Linked DNA regions of Homo sapiens. The protein of the gene in region 3 interacts with the protein of the main gene of each other region in a pairwise test. Each region holds a gene or a part of one and is shown on either strand. Other genes may lie near its edges. The genes, in order: OSBPL5, OSBPL10, SNAP25, WASHC3 and OSBPL11.

The links.
Region 1: the proteins of SNAP25 (region 3) and OSBPL5 interact in a protein complementation assay, tested with the Homo sapiens proteins (one study listed by BioGRID).
Region 2: the proteins of SNAP25 (region 3) and OSBPL10 interact in a protein complementation assay, tested with the Homo sapiens proteins (one study listed by BioGRID).
Region 4: the proteins of SNAP25 (region 3) and WASHC3 interact in a two-hybrid assay, tested with the Homo sapiens proteins (one large-scale study listed by BioGRID and IntAct).
Region 5: the proteins of SNAP25 (region 3) and OSBPL11 interact in a protein complementation assay, tested with the Homo sapiens proteins (one study listed by BioGRID).

What each region holds. Positions count from the first base shown.
Region 1 is NC_000011.10:3,161,759-3,168,181, forward strand, and holds the start of OSBPL5 (oxysterol-binding protein-related protein 5), read right to left. Parts: upstream 3,553-6,423; 5' UTR 3,458-3,552; intron 2,439-3,457; exon of another isoform or gene 2,182-2,438; intron 2,159-2,181; exon of another isoform or gene 1-2,158. UniProt on the Homo sapiens protein: Lipid transporter involved in lipid countertransport between the endoplasmic reticulum and the plasma membrane: specifically exchanges phosphatidylserine with phosphatidylinositol 4-phosphate (PI4P), delivering phosphatidylserine to the plasma membrane in exchange for PI4P, which is degraded by the SAC1/SACM1L phosphatase in the endoplasmic reticulum.
Region 2 is NC_000003.12:31,973,107-31,978,986, forward strand, and holds part of OSBPL10 (oxysterol-binding protein-related protein 10), read right to left. Parts: intron 1-5,880. UniProt on the Homo sapiens protein: Probable lipid transporter involved in lipid countertransport between the endoplasmic reticulum and the plasma membrane.
Region 3 is NC_000020.11:10,273,499-10,279,378, reverse strand, and holds part of SNAP25 (synaptosomal-associated protein 25), read right to left. Parts: intron 3,951-5,880; 5' UTR 3,888-3,950; coding exon 3,816-3,887; intron 1,695-3,815; coding exon 1,653-1,694; intron 1-1,652.
Region 4 is NC_000012.12:102,042,612-102,048,491, forward strand, and holds part of WASHC3 (WASH complex subunit 3), read right to left. Parts: intron 3,509-5,880; coding exon 3,443-3,508; intron 1,602-3,442; coding exon 1,494-1,601; intron 1-1,493. UniProt on the Homo sapiens protein: Acts as a component of the WASH core complex that functions as a nucleation-promoting factor (NPF) at the surface of endosomes, where it recruits and activates the Arp2/3 complex to induce actin polymerization, playing a key role in the fission of tubules that serve as transport intermediates during endosome sorting.
Region 5 is NC_000003.12:125,532,166-125,538,045, reverse strand, and holds part of OSBPL11 (oxysterol-binding protein-related protein 11), read left to right. Parts: intron 1-5,880. UniProt on the Homo sapiens protein: Plays a role in regulating ADIPOQ and FABP4 levels in differentiating adipocytes and is also involved in regulation of adipocyte triglyceride storage. Weakly binds 25-hydroxycholesterol. Interacts with OSBPL9 to function as lipid transfer proteins.

The DNA.
Region 1 (6,423 bases), on a different chromosome or scaffold from region 3:
AACAAAACACAGAGCTGAGAGCTGCTTTGGAATGGGTAACGGGCCAGGAACAGAGACTCTCTCAGAGAGGCAGCATCTGAGCTGGGACCTGAATTAGATGGAGCCCACCAAATGCAGATCCAAGGAGGGGCCGAAAGCAGAGGCACAGGCAGTGCAAAGGCCCTGGAGTAAGAAGCCGGGGCTGACGCCAGACCCCTGTGAGCAAGGAGGGGAGAGGGAGGGGAGGGGAGGGGGAGAGGAGAACAAGGGAAGGGAGACAGAGTGGAGGGGCATCTAGGGCCTGTGGGGTCTGGAAAGGGGTCAGGACTTACTGAGACCCATGGCAAATCTCAAAGGGCTCTAAGTGGTCAAATTACATGAAGTGGTTTATCTTTTTAAACACCATGCTGGCTGCTGGCTGGAGAAGGGCTAGGAAGGCCACGAAAGGGGAGCCTACTAGGTAGCTGATGTGGAGCTCCAGGCAAGAGCTGGTAGGGCCAGGAGGGGAGTGGAGGCCAGCCCTGGAGGGAGTAGCCGGATGTGAGGTGGGCTGGGAGGCCGAGCAAAGCATTTGCTCTCAGCCTGGGTGGCTCTGAGATTTGCAACAAAGGCCCTCTAGGAATTCTGGATCCCTCTAAGCCAGCCAAGAAGGCTCATGTCCCACCCCCTCCCCATCTCCCACCTCAAGCCCTGGTCCTGAGGACACAGCTGGTGCCCACTCCGCTTAGTGTAGATGCCAGCACAAGGCAATCTCACATCCTCGTGGACATGATCCCAGAGGCCCTGGCTCAGAACAACTGTGATGCTAAGAGAACAACGCGGTCCTTAGTCCAAGTCCTTTGTACTCGACCGCCAACCCTACCACTCTCCGGAGCAGCTTCACTATCTGCCCATACATCTCCACGGGAAAGGTTACCCAGCCGTGGCCAAGACCCAGCCACCAAGGCCCCAAAACCTTTAAAAATCTTGACCAGCCCAGGAGCCCCATCCTCAGGCTGTCAGTTGCCTCCTCAAGCTGCAGGCTCGGTAAGTCATCAAGCAAAGCTGGCATCGAGAACAATATTCTTTTCCTTTGTGCCGGTCACAAGCAGCATGAGGACATCCAGGGCAGCATGCCTGTCCCTGTCGGGAGGCCAGTGGCCCTCACTTGTACCCCCCAACATCTACCCCCCAGCACACTGGTGCACTCCCTGGGCTCCCCTGCCAACCCTGCAAGTGGTGGGCACTTCTACCCACCTGGCCCTTGGACTCCACAAGGGGAGCTGCACCTAACGGCTCCCTCCCCGACAGCTCCCTTCCTGTCAAAATGACCGGGATCCTTTTGGCACTGTGCAACCCTGGGCCTCGGCCCCTCTACAACCCCCTGTCCCGGAGGTCAGAGCTTCCAGCTCCCCAGGCCTCTCCGGGAGAACCCTGAGCTGGGTCCACAACATTTCTCAGCTGCGGTCACAGGCTCAGATTCACCTGTCCCTTGAACAATAAATGGGAATGGGGGCGGGGGGCACCTTCTGTCATCTTGGGTAAGTTTTCCACCTGCACACTGTGCCTGTATGTGTGCAAACGTGTGCAGGCTTAACCACAGAATCAGCAGAGAGCACCAGTCCCCAAAACACAGCTGGCAGAGACACACACAGCCCTTCCACCCGCCGGCTTGTCACAGAGTGTTTCTCCCTCCCCCAAGCGTTACATGTCAGATTACTATCAGCGCTCAGAGTGAGGCCAGGATCTCAGGAGAGAAACTGATACCAGGCATTCTCAGCATAGTAAATACAATCCTGGGTAGGGGTTGGGTGGGGGGGGCGGTCTTGCGTTGGTATTCTGTAAAGAGCTGAAAGCAGTCCTTTGAAGAACATGGCCTATTCATGGCCCAATCTGGACCCAGAAAGGAGCCTCCACTGGACATGCAGGATGGCTGCCCGGGGTTCGACATCTGCAGGGCAGCCTCTCTGAGACCAGGCCCAGGACTGCAGGTCAGAGGCTCCTCATCCGGCCTATCTGCTGTGTCACCTTTCTTAAACACAGCCTGGCAAGACAGACACACGCGGTGCCTGCCTCCTGGCACCCCAGGCCAGCCCCACACGCGTGCAGGCAGACAATAGGATCTGCAGTTCTGGAGCCTGAGACCAGAAGGGAGCAGCTGGGCACATGATGCCACCCCAGGTTGCCACAAACCTGCCCGATGCCTGCAAAGCCCCCACTCACCTGGCAGGTTCAAGGAACAGCAAGGCCCTGTGTACCAAGGAGGTGGGATAAAAACGTGCAGAGGGGCCTTACTCCTGGGGTTGGGGAGCAGAGTTTCTGTTCAGTCTGGGATCTGGATCAGCCCTGGTGCAGGCAGACCCAAGAGCATCTATCTAGGATCCCAAAGGCTGGCCCACTTCTCCAGGCTTTGGGAGGCTGTATCAGGTGGGGTGGGACCCTTACAGAAGTCTTCCTGTAAAAGGCACCTTGAAGAGACTGGGGCAGACACACAGAGGGGAGCAAGTTGCGAAACGGCAAGAGAGGAAATCCACCCAGCCGCTTCGGCGGGGCAGACCCGCTCAGCCCAAGGATGAGGGAGGGGCTGGGCTCAGCCCAGGGACGAGGGAGGGGCAGGTAAGCCCACCCTGTGACCCCTCCATACCCCCAGGAGTCACCCCAAACCCTAACTCCAGTTGGCTTCTGACAGGAGGCAGCCCAGCGGTCTGGGTGGGGGTTGGGGGCGGTGCCTGGGAAGCCCAGGACGGGCCTGTTGCCCGGGGGGCTGCAGACTCCAGCCTCCTTCCTGCCTGCCCCACCCTCCTGCACCCCGCTCCCCGGGAGGAATCTTCAAGTGCACAAGACCCTCTTGAGGACTCAGGCACCTCAACAATCCCTAAGGCTCCACATCTTCAGGGGGTCAGTGCCCCAGAGATGGGGGCTGTGGGCAAGGTCCTTCCCTAGCCTGTAATCCAGGCAGCCCCCTGACTCTGCGGACTCAGACACAGCAGTCCTCCCAAGCCCGCAGCTGGGACGCCAGACTCAGATCCCAGACCCCCTGCAGACCCATCAAGACCTGGCTCCTTGGAGCCCGCGTCGGCCGAGCTGGGGGGACAGACCCCCTGATTGGCCAGGGTTTGTGGTGGTCAGACCCAGCCACCTTCCCTGGCGGTCCCGGCTCCTTTAAGCCCCACCAAGTGGGGAGCCGAGCTGGGCGCGCCGCTTCCCACTCGCGGGCCCCACCCGCCCCAACCCGCCAGGCGCCGACCCGTCCTGGCCCGGGGCGCCCCCAGGCTCCCGCGCTCCCCAGCTCCCCAGCGCGCGACCGGCCCCGCGGCGTGGTTCCCCGCACTGGCTACTGCCAGGGTCCGCGGGGCTGCGGCGCGAGCTCCTGGATCCCTTCGGCCGGCCCCCCGCGGCCCTCGGTTCGCTCCGGCCCTGCCCGGCGGGGCCCTCCGGATCCTTCCCAGCCCGCCATCCCCCCGCCGCCCTGCCGCCCCCCGGGCCGCCGCGCTCCTACCTCCTACCGTGCCGCGAGCTCGGTGCTCCGGGCCGGCCGGGCGCGCGGGGGCTCCACTGGCGGCGCGGGCCTGGCTGCAGGAAATGCCAGCAGATGGTCCCCCCGCGCGAGGCGGAGCGAGGGCGCGGCGGAGGGAGGAGGCCCAGGGAGCCCGGAGGCGGGAGGAGGAGGCGCGGCGGCCGCAAAACCCGGGCCGAATCGCCGCGCGGAGCGGGCGCCCAGGGGCTGCCCCCCACCGGCTGCCGCTTCTCCTCATCCCCCAACCCCCCGCGCGCGCTCCGGGGCTCACACCCACCCGGGCGGCCAGAGGTCGGGACACTCCGCTGAAAATGGCCAGGAGGCTTGGCGGGGTGGGCAGCGGTGAGTGGGGTCAGCTTCGTGGGGTTCTCCAACTTAGGGGTGCAGGCCCCCAGCCCACCCTAGCCAGGGTGCGAGGCGCCTCCTCTCCCTTCCTGAACCCAGGAAACTGTCGCCGTTTCTCCCCGTCTCAGGAGCCATCAGAACACAAGAGGAGCCCCAGACATCTGAGCCCGTTGTCCCTGCCCCTTATGTGCTAAGAAGGACCCTCAGTCACACTCTAACTGTACGTCTTTCTCAGGACCCTTTTGACAAGAACCTCCCCTCATGTGCATTTCTTCCTGTGTTTTCTCCTCACCTTCTTCTACCCCCCAGAGACCTTTTTAGACCCCTCAGTTCTCTTGTATATAAAAGACATTCTAATTCCCCTAAACAGCATCCCCTTGGGAGCTGAGAAGTCCTCCCCTGGCCCCTGGCTCCCTGCCTGTAGACCCTAAATTGGGTGTGGGCCCAGGGCTGGCCCCAGGGCGTTTGCATCCCTAGTGTCCAAGCCTGAGGTGCACTGCAGGTCCTTCCTATGGTATGTCCCCAAATGACCAGAAAAACTGGGAGCTGGGCTCGGGCATCCCCAGATGTAGGTAGACCCCAAGAGGGCGTGGAGTCTTTTCCACACAGAACCTTAACAGGGACAGAACTGACCCTCCGCAGAGAGCCCTGGGCTCCTCCCCAGGCAGAACTGCCACTGACACGTGTGTTTCTACGGTTTCACGCTGCAGTTGCATTCGGGAGGCCGCAAGCCTGGCTATCATGGGCGTCTGCAAGACCTCCCAGCAGGGCTGCGGAGGGCGAGCGGCCCAGGAAGGCTCCTTCCAGCACCTGAAGGGGGAACGGCACAGCATGCAGGTGCTCTGCCCACAACAAGCCAGACCCCTTCCCGTCTCAGCCCTGGCCTTGCCCACCCCGTTAGACAAGTTGGTGGGTATCCTCCTGGGGATAGCAGCACCAGCCGCTTGTGTGCGGATCACAGGAACCCACGGCTTACGGAGGCGAGTGGGCTGATCGGACTTGCCCTAAGCTTACCCCCAGGGCTAGCATTGCCATTCCATAGTCACCTTGTGAGGCCTTGGGATGCAGAACTGCTCAGTCAAGATGCTCAGGGCCATGGTGGGACCCTGCTCCGCGTGGCCTGTGGCAGGCGGCCTCTGCCTCTGCAGGAGAGGGTCTGTGCAGCTGGGATCCACATACAACTGCTGGGTCTGCTCTTTGAAGACTCCGCCCAAAGCTGAGGTGCTGCTGCCTGGTAACTTGCTGGTTGCTGGAGCCAATCCAAAGGGAATTAGGGAAGAAAACAAAGCCCCTATCCCTAGGGCGGAGGTCTCAGGGGCGGCAGTAGGGAAGGTTGCCAGTTGCTTGATGCTGGCTGTCCAGGGCCTGGGTTTCATGAAATGACACTGCTGAGGGCAGAGGTCAAAAGTCAAAGAGGCACCTGAGGGTGGGGGAAGGGGCCATAGATGACAGCAGGGTGGGGCTGGGGTGGAGCAGGACGAGGGTTGAGCCTCTCACTGGGTAGTGTCTGACAGCCAGATGGCCATGCAAGAAATGAAGAACACGCCACCTGCCAGGCTCAGTGACAGGTGTCAGTTGTCTGCCCCACTTCCCAGCAGGCTCTGCATTTTTCCAGAAAGCCCCATTTCCAGCCTCTTGCCTGGTTTTGGAGAGGCAGTGAGCCGAAGAGGTTGCCCCCAGCAAGAGGTAGGTCCGAATCCTGCTGCTGCCAGAAAGAAGCTCTGTCACCAGGCAGTGGCTTGTTCCTCCTGGGACCCCGCTTCCTCTCCTGTCAGATGGACACAGCATCTGTGCCTGGTGGCCAACGCAGGAAATGAAGGCGTCAGAGGTCTCAGAGATGGGCAGAGCCAGGTGCCAATGGCACCAGCTTTAGGGGGGCACGCCCAGTAGGCCCCACCATCCAGGAGCCCTTGAGCAGGTTTGTGCAACTGGCCGTGCCTCAGTTTCCTCATCTATAAATGGCGATGACCAGAGCAGTTTCCGCTGCATGAGCTGCCATAAGTCCCCAGTGGGCCAACAGACTTTGCAAGCGCTGGCTGTTGGTGGGCACTGGGGACCATGAGTGGACTATGGGAAGGAACGGCTTGCAGCGCCCAGCTGGTTAGTTTGGAATTTATGGTAATTCAGAAAAATATGTCTGTGATAAGTAAGAACTTAAAAAATGCTTTGCAAGGACAGTGCAATTTAAAATCAGGGCAGTTCCAATCCAAGTCTCCAGAATGGCAGTTCTCTGCTAGGGGCGGTTTTGCCTCCAGTTTCCAGGTGGCATTTGCCACTGCCTGGAGATAGTTCTGGCCGTCGTCATTGGAGGTTGCTACTGGTGTCTAGTGGGTAGAGGCCGAGGATGTTGCTAAACACGTTGTCATGCACGGGACAGCCTCCACCACAAAGGGTGACCCGGCCCCAAATGCTGGTCATGCTGAGGTCAAGAATCCCTGCCCCAGAAGTGAATACATGTCCACCTGCTGGCATCACTCCTTGGTTTCGGGTGGTTGGTCTAAGCCCCCAAGGCCTCCTGCTGATGGAGCCCCTACCCTGTCCCAGGTTCTTTGCATCTCATCTACTTCTCCTGACCCCGACTGAGGGGTGAATAAGATGGCTGT
Region 2 (5,880 bases), on a different chromosome or scaffold from region 3:
AACTGCAAAAAGCCTCCCACGTTTCCGGCACAATCATTTCAACCCTTCTTTCAGGACACAAAGGCCCATCCATGTGGCTTCTTTCTTCCCAGAGTCCTCAGACAACTGTCCACAAGCAGCCTCTGAGGAAGCACACCAAACGCAGACAGCCACTGGGCAAATCAAATGGCTTAAGTCAACTGGGTCCTCATGTAATGAGAGGCAGGGCTAAGACACCTGCAGATTTGCCAAGGCTGGGGCTTAAGTGACCACCAATGCAACCCCTAGGTTCCAGAAAGCTAGTCACTAGTCTATCTAAAATACAAGACTCTCACTCACAAACTTCTGCTGAGGACCTACTGTGCACCAAGCACAGGACTGGTGCCTGTGGTGGCCTCACAACACTGCGAGGTTCATATCATTTTACAGATGGAGAGACCAAGGCCCAAAGAGTTAAATAACTTGCCCAAGGTCATTTGGCCAAAAGGAGACAAAGCTGGAAAGGTAAGAAGGACTACACAGCTTCTCCCTAGACTGCCCCTCTCAGAAGCAATGCCATGCACATGAGGAAGTGGCAGTCCTGTTTTCCAAAAGCTCTCCAGGTAGCAACATGAAGATGGCCAGGATGGGGAGCCATCTATTCACTTATGCACTGCTGGTGGCAGTGTGAAATGGTTCAGCCACTTTGGAAAACAGGTTAGCACTTTCTACATAGGATGGATACACGAGCAATTCTAATGCTAGGTATTTACCCAAAAGAAATAAAAGCATGTGACCACACAAAGACTTACACACAAATAGCAGCTTTATCTGTAATAGTCAAAAACTGGAAACAGCCCAAATGTTGTCCTACAGGTAATGGATAAACAAACTGTGGTATATCCACAGGACATAATGCCTGCATAATACACCGTGTCTCTATATATGCAGTGCCCAGGCACCTGTATACAGGCATCCAGCAAAGGGCGCATACCCAGAATATATAAACATCTCGTAAAAGTCAAGAAGAAAAAGGCAGACACCCAACAGATAAATGGGCAGAGGACTTAAAGAGCAGCTTGCAAAACATGACATCCCAATGGCCGATTAATACGTGAAAACATGTTCAGCCTCAGTAGTCATCAGGGAAAGGCAAATTAAAATTGGATGACATGAAAACAAGAGACAATATCAAGTGTGGATGAGAATGTGGTACACACAGAACTCTCTCTACACACTTTTGGTGGAAGTATTAATGCATACAACCACTGTGGAAAACTCTCTGCTAGTATCTAATAAGCTGGACATGAGCAAACACTCCTAGGTGTATATCCACAGAAATGCATACCTATGTTCTCCAAACACAGGTACTAGAATGTTCACAGCATTGTGACCCTATGAATAGGGTCAAAAACTGAAAAGAACTCAAATACCAACCTACAATAGACAAATGTGTTCAGTATATTCATACCACGGAATACCAAATAGCAATGAAAATAAACAGACCACAACTATACACAGAAACATGCGTAAGCCTCCCAAACATAACGTTAAGAGAAAGAAGCCAGACACACAGATCACATATTACACAATACACAGTTCAAAAGGAGACCAAACAACTCAGTGGTGTTGAGGTCAGAATAGCAGTTACCGTATGCGGGGAGATACTATGAGGAAAGGGGCTGTGGGGGACAGGGAATGTTTTGGCAGCTGTTTCTTAATCTGGGTGTGTTCCATTTAAGAAAATTCATTGAACTGTGTATGTATATGATTTGTGTACTTTTCTGAATGTAGATTAGACTTGAAATTTACTCGCAAAACTCAGTTAGACAGATGACGTGAAAAGGCATGAGCAGCTTTTCTTTGCCTCAACAACTTTTTCAAACTGCAAAACAGACACACATTCACCTTGGGAAAACAGACAAGAGAAGATAATGGAAATCACCCATAATCCCACCAACCAAAGAAAACCATTTTGGTGTGAATCTCCTCAAATATACACACACTTTCAAAGGAGGGGGAGGGCAGATTCTGCAGGGAGTAGTTAATACGAAGCAGGTGCTCAATACGTATTTTGAACCATAAGTGAATAAACAATATTATACAGTGTTTTGTAACCTAGGCAACCATCCCTTTTATTATTACCATCAATGAAACTAGTTAGTGTCCCTAAAGGATTTTAGCACACGGCCTCAAAACACTCTGGCAGACTACACAGGAAGATATGCAGATATTTCCTATGTACACGCGGACAAGAATACAAAACCCAGAGCAGTGATTTTCAACCCTGGTATCACCAATTCCCTCTAAAATTATTGGGATACTCAAAAAAACACTTATTTTCCTTCAAGGTGGCTTTAAAAATTCATATATACCCCAGTGATGCTTTAATTTGGGATAAGTGGCACCAAAATGCTGGGGGCTAAACACTAAACACTCAACGTATGTTGTTAATCCAGATAGAGTCAAAAGCAAGCCCTGGATATTTGGTCACTAATGGCCCCCAATGGGTGAGTTGTGGTGGGCCCTAAATCAGGGTGGGCACGTCACAGGAAGAGTCATACTCCCTGATCCAGAACCAAAGACTGTTTGCAGAGAGCAGGACAGATGATAAACACAGCAACACAAGGACAAGGTTACAAGCAGGTACAGAACCAAGACTTCTGATACTAATAATAGCTAACACTGGCTCAAATAGAACTAAGCCCTGGTTTCCCTCTCTGACATTTATTCATTTTTTTATCCATTTGACAATACTTACTCTACCCTTACTGTATACCAGACCCTGTTCTCAACACTGGAGATAACAGCAGCAACAAAGACAAACAAAATTATCTGTCCTCAGGGAGCTTATACTCTAGTGTGGAGAGACCAAAAAAAGTAAAATATAAAGCATGTCAGATAATAGCAAGGTATATGGAGAGAAATAAAATAGGAAAGGAAGATAGGATTTAGAGGCTGGGAAGGGGAGCTGTAAATGTTTGGTGCCAAGTTTTAAAAGGATCCCTTCAAAATGAAGTAATCATCTTCTCCCCAAAGAACTCTATGATAATTATGTTAATGTGGTCCCAGGGTAACCACAGCACTCAGAATAAAAACCAAGAATTTTATGGACCAGAAAGTGCCTACTTAAAAACAGACAAATTGAAGATCTAATAATAGCTACCACTTCTTGGTATCTTGCTATGTACTATTCTCAGTCCCTTATACACCAATAATCTCATTTAATCTTCACATTGAACTAATGAAAAGAGTAACATCATTTCCCACATTTAGCAGAAGAGAAAAACAGAAGCCCAGTGCAATTAAAGAGCTAGCCCACGGTCACATGTGTGCTAAGTGTTGGTGTCAAGATTTGAATCCAAAGTTCACACTACTCTTCCTCCCCAAATAAATGTCTACTTTAGAGACAGAGTCTTGCTCTGTTGCTCAGGCTGGAGTCCAGTGGTGTGATCATAGCTCACTGCAGCCTTGACCTCTTGTGCTCAAGCAATCCTCCCAACTCAGACCCCTGAGCAGCAGTGACTACAGGCCTAAGCCACCACCACTGGCTAATTTTTATATTTTTATTTTGTGGAGACAGGGTTTCACCATGGTTCCCACGCTGGTCTGGAACTCCTGGGCTCAAGCAATCCTCCCACCTCGGCCTCCCAAAGTGCTGGGATTACAGATGTGAGCCAATGCACCCAGCCTTGTCTTCCTTAATCCTAGTCAAGATTTGTTGTCATTCAGCATTTTATTGAGTTCTTACAACCCTGCCAATCACCAAAAAAAGAATTGAAGGTTGGTTCCACGTTCGCAGTGTCTTCTTTTCTCCAAATAAGAAAAAGTGAATGGCAATGGCAACCCTTAGATATTTAAATAACAATTTCTAGATCCAATTAGAAATTATTTCCTCAAATACTTGATATTATGAGCAACTCCAAAATAGCTCCATTTTAGTTTGAGAGTAAAGTTTGACTTAGGGCAAATGAAAGTTCATACAGCCAGTTTCTTACTAGGGGTAAGCACCTCAAACTGAACACAGTCCAAACAGAACTCTTGGCCAAGCCTCACCCTCCCCACAAACACATTCCCCTCCTGTGATCCTCATCTCCACAAAGGACGTCTCAACCTCCCAGCCTCTCAGGCCCACAAATCAAGAGTTATTCTTGCCCCTCTCTCACCTCCACATCAAATTCATCAGCGATTTCCATCCTCTCCACACCAGATCTATCCCTTCTCTCCAGTTCTCTGCCAACCCCCAGCCCAGGCCGCCAGCATCTCTTTCCTGGACCACTCAGATGGGCTCCTAACTGGTCTCCCTGCTTCATGCTTTGGCCCCTTGAAAATCTCATCTCTACACAGCAGCCAAAGTGACCTAATAAGTGTCACTTCCCTTCCTAAAATCCTTCTGGGCCACCAGAACCCAGTCTGAAATTCTAATCCTGGCCAACTAGGTGCTAGGTCATCTGCCTCCTCAAGTTCTCGAGGTTTACTCTCCCCATGGTTCACTCTGTATGAGTGATAAGATGGGTAATAAGAGAGTACTCTAAGTGACAATGTGAATAGCAGTAAAAACACTAGACTCACACTTAAAATTATTCCTGCAAATACTTGCTTTATCTCATCACCTTTTTTTAACCTTCATAGCACTTGCCACTTTCTGGATTTTTTATTGTTGTTCATTTGTATCAATGTATTTACTCTTCAGTGCCATCCTGTAAATCTATACAATGTTATTATGCCTGAAATATTTTCTTTAAATATCTATAATAATGAATGACAGAAAGCCCTTAATGCATGTTTTCCCCATACTCTAAGTATTTCACATTCTCATCCAGTGAGTGTGAGCCAAATGTCCTGAACTTACTCTCCTGAGTTGAGCACGTTCCCATCATACAGTGTTCTTCTCTGTGACCTCTCTTTATGTCGTTTATTTTGTGTTCTGGCCCAAACTGCCTTCCTAAGGGCATGAGGATGAGGCTACAAATAAAGGCAGAATATGATGCCAAGTGTTAAAATATAAGTTTTACAGCAACTTGAGAACATGCAAGAGGACACCAGGGTACAAACTGTTAGTGGGTGATTGGTATTAAGTCCTGGGAGCTGGTGAAGAGCACTACAATTGCACAGCAGCCTGAGAGGATGAACCAAGAACTTGGTTGCTATAGATTTGTCATTAACTGTGGGCACTTTGAAAAGAACTGCCAAAGGAAGATGCTATGAGGCCCAGAAAGAAAGGCAGCAGGAATCAGTTGGCTAACTATTTGTACTAAGGCATTTCCCTGGACCAGGGAAGGGTGGTAGCTCCAGCTCCTAGAACAGTTCCTGCCACATAGTAGGTGCTCAATAAAACAGTCTGTGAATAGATAATTGAACAAATGAATACATTTTCAAAGTTTCTATTTTTATCCTCTTCTCTCTTCCTTTTCACTAATCCATCTGTCCCTTCATAAGACCCCTAGAGAAGGGAGAATTTTGCAAGCACAGAGTCATCGTAATCTTCTCCAAACCACTAATGGACCCTCAGCCATCGTTCAAAGAACAAAATGTGGGAAATAGAAACCCTGACACTGAGATGTTAACAATTACAGACGATGCTTATGGAGTCAGTGGTAGACTTGGAAAACGGTGAGTCTACTGTGGTAAGAACAAACATAGGCAGACAGCTATAAATTGCAGTAAACAAACTCAATAAAGATGAGACATCACTTAAGCATGCTCAGGAGTGTACTTAATACCACATTTCACCTAGGTAGCCTGCTATCACGTAGGTATTATTATTGGCATTAAATGTGCTTCTTCTCAACCTTGCCTCCAATCTAAACACCACAATGGGTTTAAAATAATGCAAAAGAATGTTACTCCAATGCCTCCTAAATCCACTCCAAATAACAAATCCTTTAATACAGACTGCAAGGTAAAATATTGTTCCCCAGC
Region 3 (5,880 bases):
GAGGCTATGGTTGAAAGCCATAAGGATGTATTATGATAATAATGTAATAATATACAATCAAATAAATATCTCAGTTGATTTCTAGGCTCCCTTCAGGTTAACTTCAGAGCTCATGTAGGCATATTACTAAGATGGGCTTCTTTCATTTTTCTTCCTCCTGAAAACTTGAGAGAGAATAAGTCCATGCTAAGAGTCTTGCCTGTACTCGTAGATTTAGAATATCTACCTCCTTCTTCATCCTCAAGTATTTCTGCATGAGCAGCAGCATTCCCTGGACAGTGCAGATAAAATATTGCTCTTCACTTAGACAGAACGCTGCTTCCCTATACTGAGGACCTGCTTTGCTAGGGCTGCCTTCCGGTGTGTCCCGTTTGTGCCACATTGCAGGCTCGAATTATCATTTTGGGGGATAACAGATTTTGTTACGTTCGCCCCACCCTCCCACCCCCCGCCCCACCCACTTCCCCGGCTTCCTAGGGAGTGCATGCTTGCCACCTCCTTCCCACTCCTCCAGTGGCAATTCACATTTAGCCATATCTCATTCCTAGGTGAGAAGCTGAAGCTACAGAAATAAGAGAAGGAGGACATTGGCTCCTAGAGTGTGAGAGGCGGCTGCCTTTCCTTTTATCCTTTGTAAAATTTATCTTTTCTTCCCTTTCAAGTTGTTGCATATGAAATTTATGATAGCATGAGGGGAGTAGGCTCATTTAATCATTCTGCCAGAGAAAGCCCAAGATCTCTAAAAACGATAATCACACATGAATTTATATACTGATAAGCAGTTCAAAGCACAGCTAAAACAGCATCTCGCTGAATAAAAACTATTAGGCTTGTCTTATTAGGTTAAGATAAGTATAGTCCAACCCATTCTTTTTCCACTTCATCTCTCCCATTGGGCAAGTTCAATTAATCCATTTATTTTGCCTGGCCGACTGCTGCTCTACCAAATTGGAATGAGTGAGGTTTATGATTGCAAGTGCCCTTTTGATTCCATTATTGCTATTTGCCCCATTTTACCCATTTAAAAATAGTTTGGGATTCATTAACCCTGCCTGGCAAATGGATGCTCAATCCAGGCAGGAATATAAAAAAGCTTCTGTATTTATATTATTGGACTTGATATTTCCCTTTGTTAAAGGGCTTTCCTATTTTTTCATAAATTTTAGTGCTTGACTTTAAATAGAACAATTTCTAAAAATGATACACCTATATGCGTACATATTTTTAAAAGTCATATATGTGGCTAAAGTTAGAACAGAATCTCAAGATTAGATGTAATTTATAGGCACAAAAATAATTACAAATAAAGTTTTATGTAGATAATTCCTTTGTATATTAAGAATTGCTCTAATTTGCTTAAAGTGATACAATCGTCTGTGATTTCTTGAGAGCACAGACTTGGAAATTCTATTATTCTCTGCTTCCCAGACCAGACTACAGAGGTGGCTTGGGCTGGGAAGGAGGGTGAAGGTGTCTTCATGGCTATCTGGCAACTTAAATACAGCATCTCCCTCATTCTGTGCCTTTCTGATAGGCTACATCCACACTGGAATCTAGGGGATCATGGCCCAAGGAAACATCATAGCAACTAGGAAAGGATGTATCAGCATAAGGGATTTGTTCCTTTATCTTAAAATACTGTCACTTCTTACCTCTTCAACCAGTTGCAGCATACGACGGGTGCTTTCCAGCGACTAAGATTTAAAAAACAAACAAACATAAACTTTATGAGTGCAGGATCCAGAGATCTTGGAAAATCAGAAATACTTTATTTACTTGAGAAACACAAAGGGTCTCTGTCACATATTCTTTTCAGTTGGCAAGTGAAACAAAAAATGTCATTACATTTTCAAACTCTTTCCTATCAGGCTTTTTACATGATCAGATTCCCTAAAGCAATTACATTACAGCTTATCTTCAGAAAATAAAAACCATATGAAGCTGATCTTGATATCAAAGACAAAGTAATCTGGAGAAGATAATTTTGCATGCTCAGAATGCATGAAAAATTATCTCAATTACTCAGAGGACTAATTTGGCCTCCCTGGGCCAGGAACATTAAATTTTAAACACAAACATAATTTTTCATGAATCGAGATGAATATAACATCAAGTTTCTTACAAAGCTCCTAGAAACACAATTGGAAGTTCTTATCAATACAAATTAAGTTGTTGCCTTAGGGTGAAAAAAATCAAGCATGTTTGAAATGACCAGCCTATAGGAGAGAGCTATAATAATTATCTTCATCCTTAGATAAGAAAAAACGAGACGGAAAGGCTGAGCTCTGCAATGGTCCCCCGGGCACTGCGTTGTCACTTTTTTCTCAGTTCTTTTGAAACGACTAGAATCCAACAACCAGTGTGATTTCTCAAAGCTTTGCTTTTAACTGACAAACTTATTTTGAACAAGATTCTGCAGGAACCTGAAGGATGTTAACTTCCCTGGAAGAGCTGTCAGCCAGCTGCTTTTTGAAATAGAATGGCTGCAAGCAGCAGTCTGCTGGTAAAGGTTTAACTACCGGCTCTCTGGGAAAAATACACAAATACATACATGTATTCAAGTTTATTATTTTACTGATATAAAGGATGAATAGCACAAAATTTATAAATAATAATAAAATATACAATACTCTCTTTATTGTAAATTCCGCATAGCCAATTGATTCTCACAGAAAACTTTTACTGATTTTTGCTGAACTTTTGTGTCTACAGCTAACCATGTGATGAACCAGAGTAGTTCTGACATGAATGTTGGTTGGATATTTTCATGTATATTAATGAGTAAGAAGAAAATTAAACAATGAAGGCATGTGTTGGAATTGTACTCATTTGTGAATGACAAAAAGGATTTCTTTGCCTTAGAGAATCATAATTTTCAAATACTGGAAGATTTCCTCTTTTTGTGTTATTCATAGTATAATGGCTGCAGACATACATACTTTTAACTTTAATCTGCATTATTAATATTTTCTCTACTTTTTAAAGTCTAGACAATCAGCAAAACAATAAGTCAAGTCCTGATCTGCAGTATTTGCAGATTCTTGGGTGATAAATACTCTTACTCTGTCTGATTTTTAAATTTTTAAATATTTTTAGAGATGGGAGTCTCTCTATGTTGCTCAGGCTGGTCATGAACTCTTGGCCTATGCGATCCTCCTGCCTCAGCCTCCCAAGTAGCCGAGATCACAGGTGAGAGCCGCTGTACCCAGCTCTGCCTGATTTTAAGCTACAACTTCATATTACTGATCATGAAGTTGGAAAGACACATGGTAACACATTATTATACCTTATTTCCACCCTACAGATAAAATGGATGAATCTCAAGATCATGGATAATAGTAAAATGTAGCAAAATAATTAGGAAGTGATGAAGTTTGAGTGTTTATTACTTTTGATTTTAATAGAATCTATCTAATTGTCAGTTTATGTAATTCAGTTTTAATAATGGCTGCATTTAGCAACCAGCTTGCAAAGTTCCTGAAAATGTTAACAATCTGTTCTCGGAACTGAGCCTTCTCCAGCATAGCACTGAATTAAGGCACCCAAAGACATTGCTTTCTTTTCTTAGAGGACCTTGACTTCTCAAGGTTTCTGGAAATTGAGAGTTAGGGCCAAGACAGTAATTTGTATGCAGCTTCTATAATCAACTTATTCTGGTCCACAGAAGCCTTAGGTGTACAGAAAATCAAAGTCATATTACTTTTTCTAAAAGAAATTGAGACATTGAAAGAAAGGCTTTCCCTACCTGAACCTGAATAAGACAAACCACTCAGGCCTTCATCTTTTGCCTCCCTTCCTAGGTCTCCACTCCTTACCTCATCAGCCAACTGGTCAGCCCTTCGCTGCATCTCCTCCAGCTCATTGCGCATGTCTGCGTCTTCGGCCATGGTAGCGGTGGGGAGTGGCTGGGCGCCTGGGCTGGGGGGTCAGTGACGGGTTTGGCTCTGGACCTGGGAAGAAGTAGATATGAAAATATGAGAGCTTATATATGTTCATGTAGGTGTGTGCAAAGACCAGAAAATCTAAATGGCCCATACTCAGTCCACATGACTCAGTTTTCTGATCTGAAAGCCATACTCAGACAGGGGTCAACAGAATTGTGCTGTTTCTCCGAAGGATGCCACAAATACATACTTGCCAATTCTGCCATGGAGATAGACACCTATCTACCGATGAAATATTTTTAAAGAGACAAACTACCCAAGGGTTGGGAATGATGAGGTTGGAGGGATGTGGTTTGGGGTTAGTGTACTTTTATCATCACATTTATTTATTTATTTATTTATTTATTTATTTATTTATTTATTTAAATAGCTCTATTAAGGTATAACAGATATACAGTCCACCCCACATATTTGAAGTGTACAACTTGAGAAGTTTTGACATATGTATACACCCAGGAAACCATGACTGCAATCAAAACAATGAACATAGCCATTACTCCTCCAAATTTCCTACCCACCCACTGGCCCCTGCCCTATCCCACATGTCTATGCCCAGAAAACTGCTGATCTACTTTCTTTTTTTTATTTTTTTGAGACAGAGTCTCGCTCTGTCGCCCAGGCTGGAGTGCAGTGGCGTGATCTCAGCTCACTGCAAGCTCTGCCTCCCGGGTTCACGCCATTCTCCTGCCTCAGCCTCCCGAGTAGCTGGGACTACAGGTGCCTACCACCACACCTGGCTAATTTTTTGTATTTTTAGTAGAGACGGGGTTTCACTGTGTTGGCCAGGATGGTCTCGATCTCCTGACCTTGTGATCCGCCTGCCTTGGCCTCCCAAAGTGCTGGGATTACAGGCGTGAGCCACCGCACCCAGCCTGATCTACTTTCTGTCACTATACATTAGTTTGCATTTCCTATAATTTTATATAAATAAAAATCACATAGTGTGTACTACTTTTTGTCTGCCTTCTTTCACTTAGCATAATTATTTTGAGATTTATCTATGTTGCAGCATGTATTAATAGTTCATTCAATTTTTGTTGTTGAATAGTGTTCCATTGTGTTTAGAAGCATGTGGAAGCCAAAGGCAGAAAATCTTTCATCTATTTCAGTCATCATCAGAGGTTGCCAAAAGGGCTTGTGTGAGGGTGAGCTGCTATCACTCCAAAGAGGGTGGGTCCTTGGTCCTGAAAGGTGACCAGTCCATTTCTTGGCTACTCTCTTGAAATCCCACATGGTACAAATGACAGGTACAAGGACTGGGTCTATTCCGGAGAGAGCCCTCCTTCCTCCTTCCTTCTCAAATATTTATTGAGCACCTGTAATATGCCAGGCAGTGTTAGGCACTAGGGATACAGTGATGGACAAGATAGGCAAATTCCCTGCCTTTACAGAATTCAGTCTAATTGGGGAGATGCAAGCAAAAGAGGGAATTAGATGATTCAGGATGATGATAATTACACTAGGGGACATGTCTGGTATCATGGGTGCCCATGGGTTTGCAACAGGCCTTTCTGAGGAAGCCATGTCCCCAGGCCATCGAAGGGAAGGGGGCAAAGGGCCCGATGGGGTAGGTATCTGATAGAATGAAAAATTCTCTGTGAGTAGCACATTTGAAGAAGGCATGGGCTCTTGTCTTGTAGCGGAGATGGTCAACTGTGCACTTTAACCTCACTGTTGCATGGTAGAGCATGATCTCTGGGAAATGGCTGTGCAGCCAGGAATTACATTTCTAATTCCCATTGCAAGGAAGTGGTGCTCTGTGGCTAGAGACAGTCCATGAGTGGTAGTAGAACAAAGTGTGTCCCTGTCAGTCTAAGGCAGTTCAGAAGCAGGTATTCTCCTCCCTCTGTTTCTCCTTCTGCCAGAAATACAGTCTTAAAGGATGGTTAAGCCATGAGACCATGAGACAGAAGGAACTTGGGCCCTCCATATCCCT
Region 4 (5,880 bases), on a different chromosome or scaffold from region 3:
CTTACATTATAGGGCTGTTGTAAAGATTAAATTAGTTTATGAAAGGCACTTAGAAACGTGCATGCCTTGGTACACAGAAAGCACTCTTGAAGTGTTAGCTGTTATCATCACTGTCAACATCATCGTGATCTAAAAAATATCCTGTGAAAAGTGCCTCCAGGTACAAAGGCAGAATTCCATTTATAAATCTGTTTGTTTTATTTGTTTATTATTATTACTTTGGTAGGCCACCATTTTGATGATTACTTTGTTTTAGATTTTAATACCTCGCTGAGATACACTAGAGATTGTTCTCAAACAACAAAGAATTTTTATTTTTTGAAATAAAAAGTAATAGAAAATTTAAATTCATACAGAAGCATAAGTAAATGTTAAGATCTAAGAGCCAAATGTAAAGTATAGCTTTTACTGGGATGCTGATTCAAACGAATCATCTTCAAAAACACACTGGTATTTCTAAGATCAGTAGCTCTCAAATTTTAAGAGCCTACAGATCACCTAGGGGTCTTGTTAAAATGTAGATTCTCATCAGCAGTTTTGGGGTGGAGCCTGAGATGCTTCATTCTAACAAGCTGCCAGGTGATGCCCATGTGGTTGGTCCATGGCGTGTACTTGAGTAACAAGGGGTTAGACAATACCAGAGAATGTTTTATTTATTTATTTATTTTTTATTTTTGAGGCAGGGACTTGCGCTGTCACCTAGGCTGGAGTGCAGTAGTGTAATCTCGGTTCACTGCAACCTCTGCCTCGTGGGCTCAAGTGATCCTCCCACCTCAGCCTCCCGAGTAGTGAGACCACAGGTGCGTGCCACCACACCTGGCTAATTTTTGTATTTTTAGTGGAGATAGGGTTTTACCATGTTGCCCAGGCTGATCTCGAACTCCTGAGCTCAAGCAATCCACCTGCCTCAGCCTCCCAAAGTGTTGGGATTACAGGCCTGAGTGACTGCACCTGGCCAATTATTGTTAATTACACTGTATATGATAAAGGCATTTATATAAGCAAATGTTACAAAAGAAAATGTCAAAACTTTTCAGAGATGCTCAAAAATTTATGCAGGGTGAGATGACAAGATGTCTGGAATTAATTTCAGCAAGTGACCAAAAAAATAGATGAAGCAATTGTGAAAACTGGTGAATCCAGGTCTATTTTTGTGTATGTTTAAAAATTTTACAATAAAATATTTTAAAAGTACATTTCTTCTAAGAACCTAGAAAAATTTCTAATTATTTTGAAGAAAATAATTATTTGAAGCTTTTTCCTAGTCCTATATAGACTGATTTTCTTTTTTACAGGCAAAGAAAGTATTAACTTCAGGAAGCCCTTCAAAATAACACAGCTAATTTGTTTTTCCCAAACTTCATTTTCTATGTTAAGGTTTTAAAATTTTACTATTAGAAGTTTTACATGTTTATTTTTCTTCCTTCCAACCTGCTGCTTAACACTATCAGTTTCAACCAAGAACATCTGCTCGTTTCTTAGAACTCACTTACCTGTGGTTGCTCTGAAGTGGCTTCAGGATGTGCTCCATTTGTGACACTGGTGACATTTAAAGGAGATACTTCAACTGTGACATCATCTAGGCCTGGGATAGATGACAACTGAGAAAAGAAAATTAGTATTGGAATATGAAGATAGTACTTGCATAAATAAACACTATTTTTAATAGCTGTCTTAAGTTTTAAGGCTATACAAATAGGTTCACAATATCTTGTCTTTAATTTTCCATGTCATAAACTAAAAGTGAAAGACGGTCACAAATTCTTTTGAAGAACTTCTCAAAAATCTAATTTAGTTTACATAACCATCATTTTCAAAATATAGACAATCCTAGTGTAAGGACTGAGAGCCTGGTCTTTGAAGTCAGACTGTCAGGTTTAACTTTTAGCTCTACCACTCACAAGCTGTGTGATCTTGTGTAAAACTCCCTGTGTCTCAATTATCTCACCTGTAAAGTGGAGATAAGAACATGTACCTAGAAAAGTTGTTGTAAAAATATTTCTATTGATAATACTTCGAAAAAAAAGGGCTTTGTGCAAATTTTGAGTTTCAATTATCTAGGATATGACAAAACTCTTGTCTTTACACTTTAATGTGTGACACAGCTCATTCTTTTTTCTTTCTTTGAACATTCACCACTGAATGTTATTAAAATATGTTTCTTCTATGCAAAAAAATGGGCATATTGTTGGTATTTCAACCTGAAATGGTTTAGCTTTCACTATGAAATAGTTAAGCATTTCAGGTTAGATCTGCGAGACCCATACAAACCTTCTTTTCTGAGTTCATCCTGATATCAATGACACGCATTTGTCGATGTTTGGCTAACTTTGGGGATGACTCTATGGCCATGGAAATAACTAAGGTTAACTTGTCCATATGGTCATTTAATGTGCGACCTTGGACTCTAACTCCCAGGAATTCCTTAAACATTAAAATAAGACACATATTCACATTAAAATAAGACACATATTCATTATAAAGAATAATAATTAAAAAAAAAACCAATGGTAATAAGATCTCAAGCAGCAATACTCATTGAGAACTGTTGACTGATAACCATAGTTAGCACAGTGGCTATGGCCCAAATAGTTTCAAGTGGGTATGGCTGCTAGAGGACTATCTTGAACATGTTCAAGACCGGGTTTCCAAACTAGAGAAATGTTCTAAGAGAAACACAGTTGCTGAAGTCCATAAAGAGACGTAGAAAGTACAAACTAGACATTCTGGTCATATTAAAAAGGGATATCATTTTTTTCTTCCTCATAAATATTTACAGAATATTTCTTAGTTTTATTTTGGTAAATGGACAAAGAAAATATTAACTTCAGGAAAGTTAGTCATGAAAATACACTAGTGTCTCCATAACTTTATAAACAGAAAAAACACATGTAAAAAAATATTAAAAATGAAACCAAAGACATCACTGTTATCAAAATCTTTAAGCTTGCAATCTAAAACAGTCTTCTATTTTTCTTAGTTATTATTTGCAATTTCTGACATCAAAACTGGTATTCCTCATTAGCATTTAAGGTATCTGCAAATAGAAACAGCTGATATTGTCTCTAAAATTTGCTCTGAGACATCTAAAGATTTATATTAGTATTGTATTATCAAATAATAACTAGTAAAATAAATCTGGAATTTTCTATCAAATGAAGTGAACTAGATAACAGCTCAGCTTGTTAACATGTTACTCGCATTATGCGTTTGCCTAGCACAATGAAAGAAATCGCAAACCATGTGTACATTTGAATTAATGGTTCATAATGAACACCATTTTCTTTGCAACTGCAGTAAAATTAAAAACACAACCAGTATCACTTCACAGATACAGAAGTTAAATGGAATCACTCCCAAATGCAATGAAAATTAAGTATGATTAAGAAAGCTGGTATATGCACAGCAAAGTTTATACTACAAATTATTGAGAAATACCAACCTTTGCATCTAAAATATTGAGAGTTGTTTCAATTTGTTGGATACGAAGTGAAAGGTCTGCCAGTTTCTGTAAAAGAAAAATTAGAGACATAAAGACTTTAATTAAAATAAACTGTTAACAATAACTAAGGGCAGATATGAAAATATTAAAAACCATTAAATATTTGTCATATTCTAATACAGTACTGTCTTATTTACATGAGTAGGAATGAGAACTCTTCTATTACGTGTATTATAATGCTTCTCAGTTTCTTTTTTTTTTGGGACGGAGTCTTGCTCTGTCGCCAGGCTGGAGCGCAGTGGTGCGATCTCGGCTCCCTGCAACCCCTGCCCCCTGGGTTCAAGTGATTCTCCTGCCTCAGCCTCCCGAGTGCTGGGACTACAGGCACGTGCCACCACGCCCAGCTAATTTTTGCATTTTTAGTAGAGATAGTGTTTCACCATGTTGGTCAGGATGGTCTTGATCTCTTGACCTCGTGATCTGCCTGCTTGGCCTCCCAAAGTGCTGTGATTACAGGCGTGAGCCACCGCACCCAGTCGCTTCTCAGTTATTTTATAAAATTATATTCACTTATAACAAAGTTGACATTTTCTGCAAACTCATTATCAGAGCAGTAAACAATTGTTGAGACCAGAATATAAACAAACCAGGACAGAGCCTTTTGTTTACTACTGTACCTTTAGTGCCCAGAATAGTACCCTGACACTTAATAGGAGCTTAATAATTATTTGTTGATGAATGAAGAAATTTTTTCATAGAAAATAAAAGAATAAAAATTATTCAAAGACACGCTGCAACAAGGTCTGCCTTTATAAATTACTTAAATGCATCAGCATATACAATTCGTCCCAGATTTAAACATCTGTAGTTTGAAAAATAAAGGGGAATGGAATTGGAAGATGAGTAATTCATTTTGGAAAGAGAAGAGAAAAAACTAGAGTATTAAAATCTACTATCAAAATGCAAGATAAACCAGATAGAAGAGCTTATCATGCTTGTTACTCTGTATAATTAAATTGTCAATGTACCTCTGTGTAAATATACACCTATACAAAGAAAGGTAGCATCATAAAATATGACCATTCAAGTAAAGAACATTTACTTGAAACCTCCTAATCTTAAACATTATATTCAGTCACATAATCCAAGAGCAGTTGCCCAGTTTACAAGCTGGCAGATACACAGCATCCTGATTGTATTCTGGGATATTATTAAGATCCTGACTATTAAGTAGAACTTTACCATCCTGTGAAATGGTCACTTTGCCCACAATTAGAGGGGGCAAAAAACTGAAAGTGGCCACAAAGCAGATAGTGCTTCTTTACAGATCACTTATTTTTAGTTTAGCATCTTGATATCGACAAAGACATAATCTACAAATAAAGTATTAGGATCTAGTTTTCATGGTATCAAAGCTAAGTTTACCCTTGACTTCTAGAATTCATTCACATAAGGCTTTTAGGTAAACACCAATACAGGTTTATAACATGTATTATGAATGAATCCCTCTCCAAATTATAAGTGTATTCCTTAAAATCATAGAAATTTAATTTTGGCAAATCTAATCAGTCTCAATTCACTAGAGAAAAAATTCCACAGCAAATTAATATGTAAAGTGAATGAGAATTTCCAACTTATTTAAAAATGGACATATTGGTTTGATTGAAGGAAACACAAAAGGAAACAAAAAAATGGAATTAAAAATTTTTCTGTTTTAATATACCTATATATTTACTTTTAAGCAATAATCATCAATACTGTAAATATCTGAGTATTTACCTTGCTACATATGGTACAGTGTATATGCAACATATCAATTGAAATCTTACACCAAATCTATAAAGTAGGAACTATTATGCCAATTTTAAAGATGAGAAAATTGAGTCTCATACAAGTAAAATATCCTGAACTCAAACCCTCCAACTCCAGAGGCAATACACTTCACGAGATTTTTTTGAGATAATTTTACACTGTTAAAACATAATGGTAAATTCTTGGGTATTGCACAGAATTTTTGTTATCCAAAGCTAACAAATGATCAATTCGTTTCTCACTAAGATGATTCTGTGCCAAGAGGAAAAGCCTTTTGCTCTTCTGATTCTGAGATGATCATTTACAAAGTGGTTCTGAACTACAGTACATGAACTAGGATGAGAGAAAAAATTCTACCTTTATTTTTATCTACTTCTAGCTTAAATTCAGCATTGTTTAAAAACATAGTTAAAAAAAAAATCACCATAGGCTGGGCACAATGGCTCATGCCTGTAATCCCAGCACTTTGGGAGGCCGAGGCAGGTGTATCATCTGAGGTCAGGATGGTCAACATGGTGAAACCCCAACTCTACTAAAAATACAAAAAAAATTAGCCAAGTGTGGTGGTGTGCGTCTGCAGTCCCAGCTACTCAGGAGGCTGAGGCAGGAGAATCGCTTGAACCTGG
Region 5 (5,880 bases), on a different chromosome or scaffold from region 3:
TGTTTAGGGTAATTAGAATTCAGAGGTACAAATTAATCAGACAAATTAGTTTTTAAAATAATACTTCTTTGGGGAAAAGGTGTGAGCAAATGGGCATTTTCATGCTGCTGATTAGATGTTAAACCAGTGCAATCTTTGTAGAGGTTATTTTGGCAGTATGTGTCATAGACCTTGAAAAATAAAGTGGATCTATACGTGTTAATAAGGTACAGCTTCCAAAATGTGTTGACAGTGGTTGCTTCTGGAAAAGAGTACTGGGATCTGGAATAGGAAAGAGACTTAATTTTTACAAGATTCCTATTTGTACTGTTTAAATTTTATGTCATGAGGGACATAAAATGTCCTTCTATCAATTAAAAATAGAAAAAAAATATACAGGGAACCACTAAACATCTTACATTAAGATCACATAAATAGAACCAAACAATTTCTAACTAGGTGTGAAAAGGGATTAAATGTCCACAATCAAACATTCAGAGTGGGTCAAAAAATAACAGCAATAATGAATTTTTAAAGAATTCTTACAGGGATTTATCCTAAGGAGAGGGTCTCAAAGTTTGCTTTGCAGACCCCTGTTGGGTCCTTGAGACCTTTTCAGGGCATCTGCAAGTTCACAATTTGTTTATAACAATACAGAGATATTATTTATCATTTTTCACTCTGTGGGCTCTTATGATGGTGCAAAAGGAATGCTGTGGGTAGCACTGGTGGGCCTTAGGACTAATCTAGGCAGTGGCACCAAACGTCACAAGCAGTCATTATATTCTTCACTGCCATGTACTCGCATGCCCCTTTCTCTTAAGATGTCCTTGAAAAAGCAATACAAATTATTAGTTTTTTTAAAATCTGGATTACTGAGTACATGTCTTTTTTTTTTTTTTTTTTTGAGACAGGGTCTCACCCTGTCACCCAGGCTGGAGTGTGGTCGGGCGATCTCGGCTCCCTGCAACTTCCACCTCCTAGGTTCAAGTGATCCTCCTGCCTCAGCCTCCTGAGTAGCTGGGACTGCAGGCATCGACCACCACGCCTGGCTAATTTTTTGTATTTGTAGTAGAGACGGGGTTTCACCATGTTGGCCAGGCTGGTCGTGAACTTCTGACCTCAAGTGATCCTGCCACCTCAGCCTCCCAAAGTGCTGGGATTACAGGCATGAGCCACCGTGCCTGGCCGAGTACATGTCTTATTAGTATTCTGTATGACAAATTGGGAATATAAATAAGTATTTGTGCTGGCTACCGAAGAAATATAGTAGTTATCTGGAGGAAGAGCACTTGTAAAATTTTTTGAGTTACAAGCAGAATTAATCACTTTGTTCATGAAATACCATGTTTACTTAAAAGAATGATTGATAGACAAACTATGGTTCTTCTAATTTCAATGTTAGGTAGACATTTTTCTTGTAAATGAAAGACATGAATGTGATACTTAAAGAAAAACAATTGATGGTATGTTACTAATAATAAAATTTGAGCTTCAAGGCAAAATTAGAATTTTAGAAAATTGTATCTGCCACCATGAACTTGAAAACTTCCCAATTAGTTTTCTGGTGAACTTGGTGCTTATATTATTGAACGTGATTTTTTAAAATATTGTATAGTATGTCAACATCTGGAAGATCTGCATAACTCAATGAACCAGTATTTTTCAAATGACTAATGCATGATATTACAGAATCATGCATGGATAAATGATCCATTCAGGATGCACATTAGACCAGTGGATTTCCATATAAGTTATTTGAAAAAATATTGACATTCTTAAATTTTCCACATTGCAACTGGCCTTTTTAAAATTACCAGTTGTCGAGTTTTGAAACAGTATGAAAGAATTGAATTATTTGAAAAATCTGTAAAAATATTTCTTCTCTTTTTCAAACTGTATCTGTGTGAGGCCAGAATTTTTTTTTTTTTTTTGAGATGGACTCACTCTGTCACCTAAGTTGGAGTGCAGTGGCATGATCTCGGCTCACTGCAACCTCTGCCTCCTGGGCTCAAGCGATTCTCATGCCTCAGCCTCCCAAGTAGCTGGGATTACAGGTGCACACCACCACACCCAACTGATTTTTTTGTATTTTTAATAGAGATGGGGTTTCACCATGTTGGTCAGGCTGGTCTTGAACTCCTGATCTCAGGTGATCCGCCCACCTCGGCCTCCCAAAGTGCTGGAATTACAGGCTTGAGCCACCATGCCCGGCCCAGATTTTTCCTATATATACTTTAAATCAATATATCACCACAGATTGAATGTATGGGCAGATAAAGAGATGCTTCTGGGCCGGTGTGGTGGCTCACGCCTATAATCCCAGCATGTTGGAAGGCCAAGGCGGGTGTGTCACTTGAGGTCAGGAGTTCAAGACCAGCCTGGCCAACATGGTGAAACCCCATCTCTACTAAAAATACAAAAATCAGCCAGGCATCTCTACTAAAAATACAAAAATCACCTGGCGTGGTGGCGTGCACCTGTAGTCTCAGCTACTCGGGAGGCTGAGGCATGAGAATCACTTGAACCCAGGAGGTGGAGGTTGCAGTGAGCCGCCGTTGAACCACTGCACTCTAGCCTGGGTGACAGAGCCAGACTGTCTCAAAAAAAAAAAAAAAAAAAAAAAAGATGCTTCTGAATTTTATTTGCTAAAATTTTGTAATGAATTTTATAGTTTCTATATACATGAGGGATATTGCTCTGTTCTTTTCTTTAGGGGAAGGTTTTGAATTACAAATTACGTATGTTTAATATATAGGGCTGTTAAGGTTTTCTGTTTCTTCAGTGAGCTTTGGTAGTTTGTCTTTCAAGGAATTGGTTCATTTCAGCTAATGTGTCAAATTTATTGTCATATAGTTCCTAATATTACCTTATTTTTTTATCTGTGTAGGATCTATAGTGATATCCCCATACTTATTCCTTATATTTGTAATATCTTTTTTCTCATCAGTGTGACTAAAAGTTTATTAATTTTACACAAAAAACCAGATTTTGGCTTCACTGATTTAATCTATGTTTGTTTTCTTTCTCATTGAATTTTGCTCTTTTATAAAATCTCTTTTTTTCTCCTTACATTGTAAATAATTTGCTTTTTTTTTTTTTTTTTTTTTTTTTTCTAATTTCTTACAATGGAAGCTTAGGTTAGGGGTCAGCAAACTTTTTCTGTAAAAGGCCAATTAATATTTTAGCCTTAGTGGACCAAATAGCCTCTCCCACAGCTACTCAACTCTGCCCTTATAGCATGAAACATCCATAGACAATAAGTCAATGATGAGACATTGTTAAATTGCAATAAAAAATTATTTACAAAAATGGGCTGTGGGCCATAGTTTGATCCCTGGTTTAGCTCATCAATATTTTTTTCCTAAATGTTTAATGCTGTAAATTTTCCTCTGAGGACTGCTTTATTTCTATCTGATGACTTTTTATGTGTTTTCATTTCGAAATATTTTCTTATTTCCTTTGTGGGTTTTTTTTTTTTAACTCATGAACTTATTTACAAATGTGTTGATGATTTCTAAATGTTTAGAGATTTTCCAGCTAGCTTTCCATTATTTATTTCTAATTTAGTTTCATTTTGGTGAAAGAATATACTTTGTATGATTTTAATTCTTTATTTAGGTTTGTTTAATGATTCTGAATATGTTCTGTCTTGGTAAATGTTTCTTTTTTTTTTTTTAAGACAAAGTAGTGTCTTACTCTGTCGCCCAGGCTGGAGTGCAGTGATGCAGTCTCGGCTCACTGCAACCTCCACCTCCCTGGTTCAAGCGATTCTCATGCCTCAGCCTCCCGAGTAGCTGGGACTACAGGCGTGTGCCACCACACCCAGCTAATTTTTTTATATTTTTAGTAGAGATGGGGTTTCACCATGTTGGCCAGGCTGGTCTCAAACTCCTGACCTCAAGTGATCCACTCACGTCGGCCTCCCAAAGTGCTAGAATTATTCATGAGCCACCACACCTGGCCTTGGTAAATGTTTCATGTGCCCTTGACACGAATGTGTATTAAGCCCAAGAGTTTGAGACCAGCCTGGGTAACATGGCAAAACTCTGTCTCCACAAAAAATATAAAAATTAGTTGGATGTGATGGCATGTGCCTGTAATGCCAGCTACTCAGGAGGCTGAGGTGAGTGTGTTCTATAAACGTCAGGTCAAATGAGTTGACAGTATTTTTCTAGTCTTCTGTAGTCTTACAGATTTTCTGTGTATTTATTCTATCAGTTGAGTTTAGTTATTGAGATTGGTTATTAAAATTACCAATTACAATTGAATATTTCACTTTGTAGTTCTGCAAGTTGTTACTTCATTTTATTAGAAGTTCTGTTATTAGGGCAGGCATTTATATTTAGGATTGTTATGTCTTGATGTTTCTGTTTTTGTTTTAATGTCTTTGGTTATTTATGGAGAATTCCTTATAAATTCATTTTTATTTTTGAGCCATCTCATGTATCATATTTTTTTAAAAGGATATTTGATACTTGATTTTCAGAAATGTGTTAGGAAACCTTTTGGAGCCATTAAGATACATATGTAGCCTTAATTCTTTAAATTATAAGACCTTTGGCATACTATCCAGCACTTTGGGAGGCCGAGGTGGGCGGGTCATTTGAGGTCAGGAGTTCGAGACCAGCCTGGCCAACATGATGAAACCCTGTCTGTACTCAAAATACAAAAATTAGCCGGGCATGGTGGTGCACGCCTGTAGTCCCAGCTACTCAAGAAAGTGAGGCAGGAGAATTGCTTGAGTCCGGGAGGCAGAGGTTGCAGTGAGCTGAGATGGTGACAGTGAGACCCTGTCTCAAAAAAAGAAAAAAGAGAAGAGACGAGAACAGAAGAGAAAGAGGGAGGGAGGGAGAGAGAAGGGAGGGAGGGAAGGGGAGGAAGAGAAGGAAGGGGGGAGGAAAGAAAGGAAGAAAGAAAGAAAAAACAGATGTTTAGTAACTTTCTCGAGTAGTACAGTCATTACCATAAATAAGTTTTAGAATATTTTCATCCTACCGTAAGATCTCTCTTGTTCATTTACAGTTAATCCCCATTACCCCCAGCCCAGAGAACCACTAACTTTCTGTCTCTATAAATTTGCCTTTTCTGGATATTTCATATAAATCATACAATGTGTGATCTCTTATGCCTGGCTTATTTCCTTAGTATAACGTTTTTGAGGTTCATCCATGAAGTATTAATTGCATGTATCAGTGGTTCATTGCTTTTTATTGCTGAATAGTATTGCACTGTATGGATATATCACATTTTGCCTATCCATAATACTGCTGTGAACATTCTCCTACAAGTCTTTGTATGGACATTTATTTTCATTTTTCTTGGGTAAATACCCAGGAGTGGAATTGCTGGGTTTATGGTAGTTTTATGTTTAACTTACTACATTTTTTTCACATGTATATCCAGTTGTCCCAGCACCATTTGTTCAACAAACAGTTCTTTCCCTAAAGAAGTGTTGTGGCAGTTTTTTTTTGTTTTTTTTTTTTTTTGCTTGAGATTTGTTAAGCTTCCCTCTCCCTGTGCGTGGCCTAGAAACACTCTGGACAGCGAGTTAGAGCACTCATAGGACTCCCCTCATTTGTTTCCTTTCTCAAGGATCACTGCCCTGCACTGCCTTTTGCTCAGTATCTGAAAACCACTATTGTATTATATGTTGCCTGGTTTCCTGGTTGATGAAGGCAGGAAAATAAATGTGTTCCCCATTATTTCATCATGTCCAGAAGCACAATTAGTCTTGCTTACATTTCAACTTTGAAAATTTACTTCTCTTTTTACTCGTTAATTTCTAAGTTTTCTAAAAACAAAAAATCCTGCTTTTATAACCTGGAAAAATACAAATTATTTTTAATTTAAAAAGAAGCAGAAGGAGCAGCATCCTGGACATAACCATCAGCAGCACAG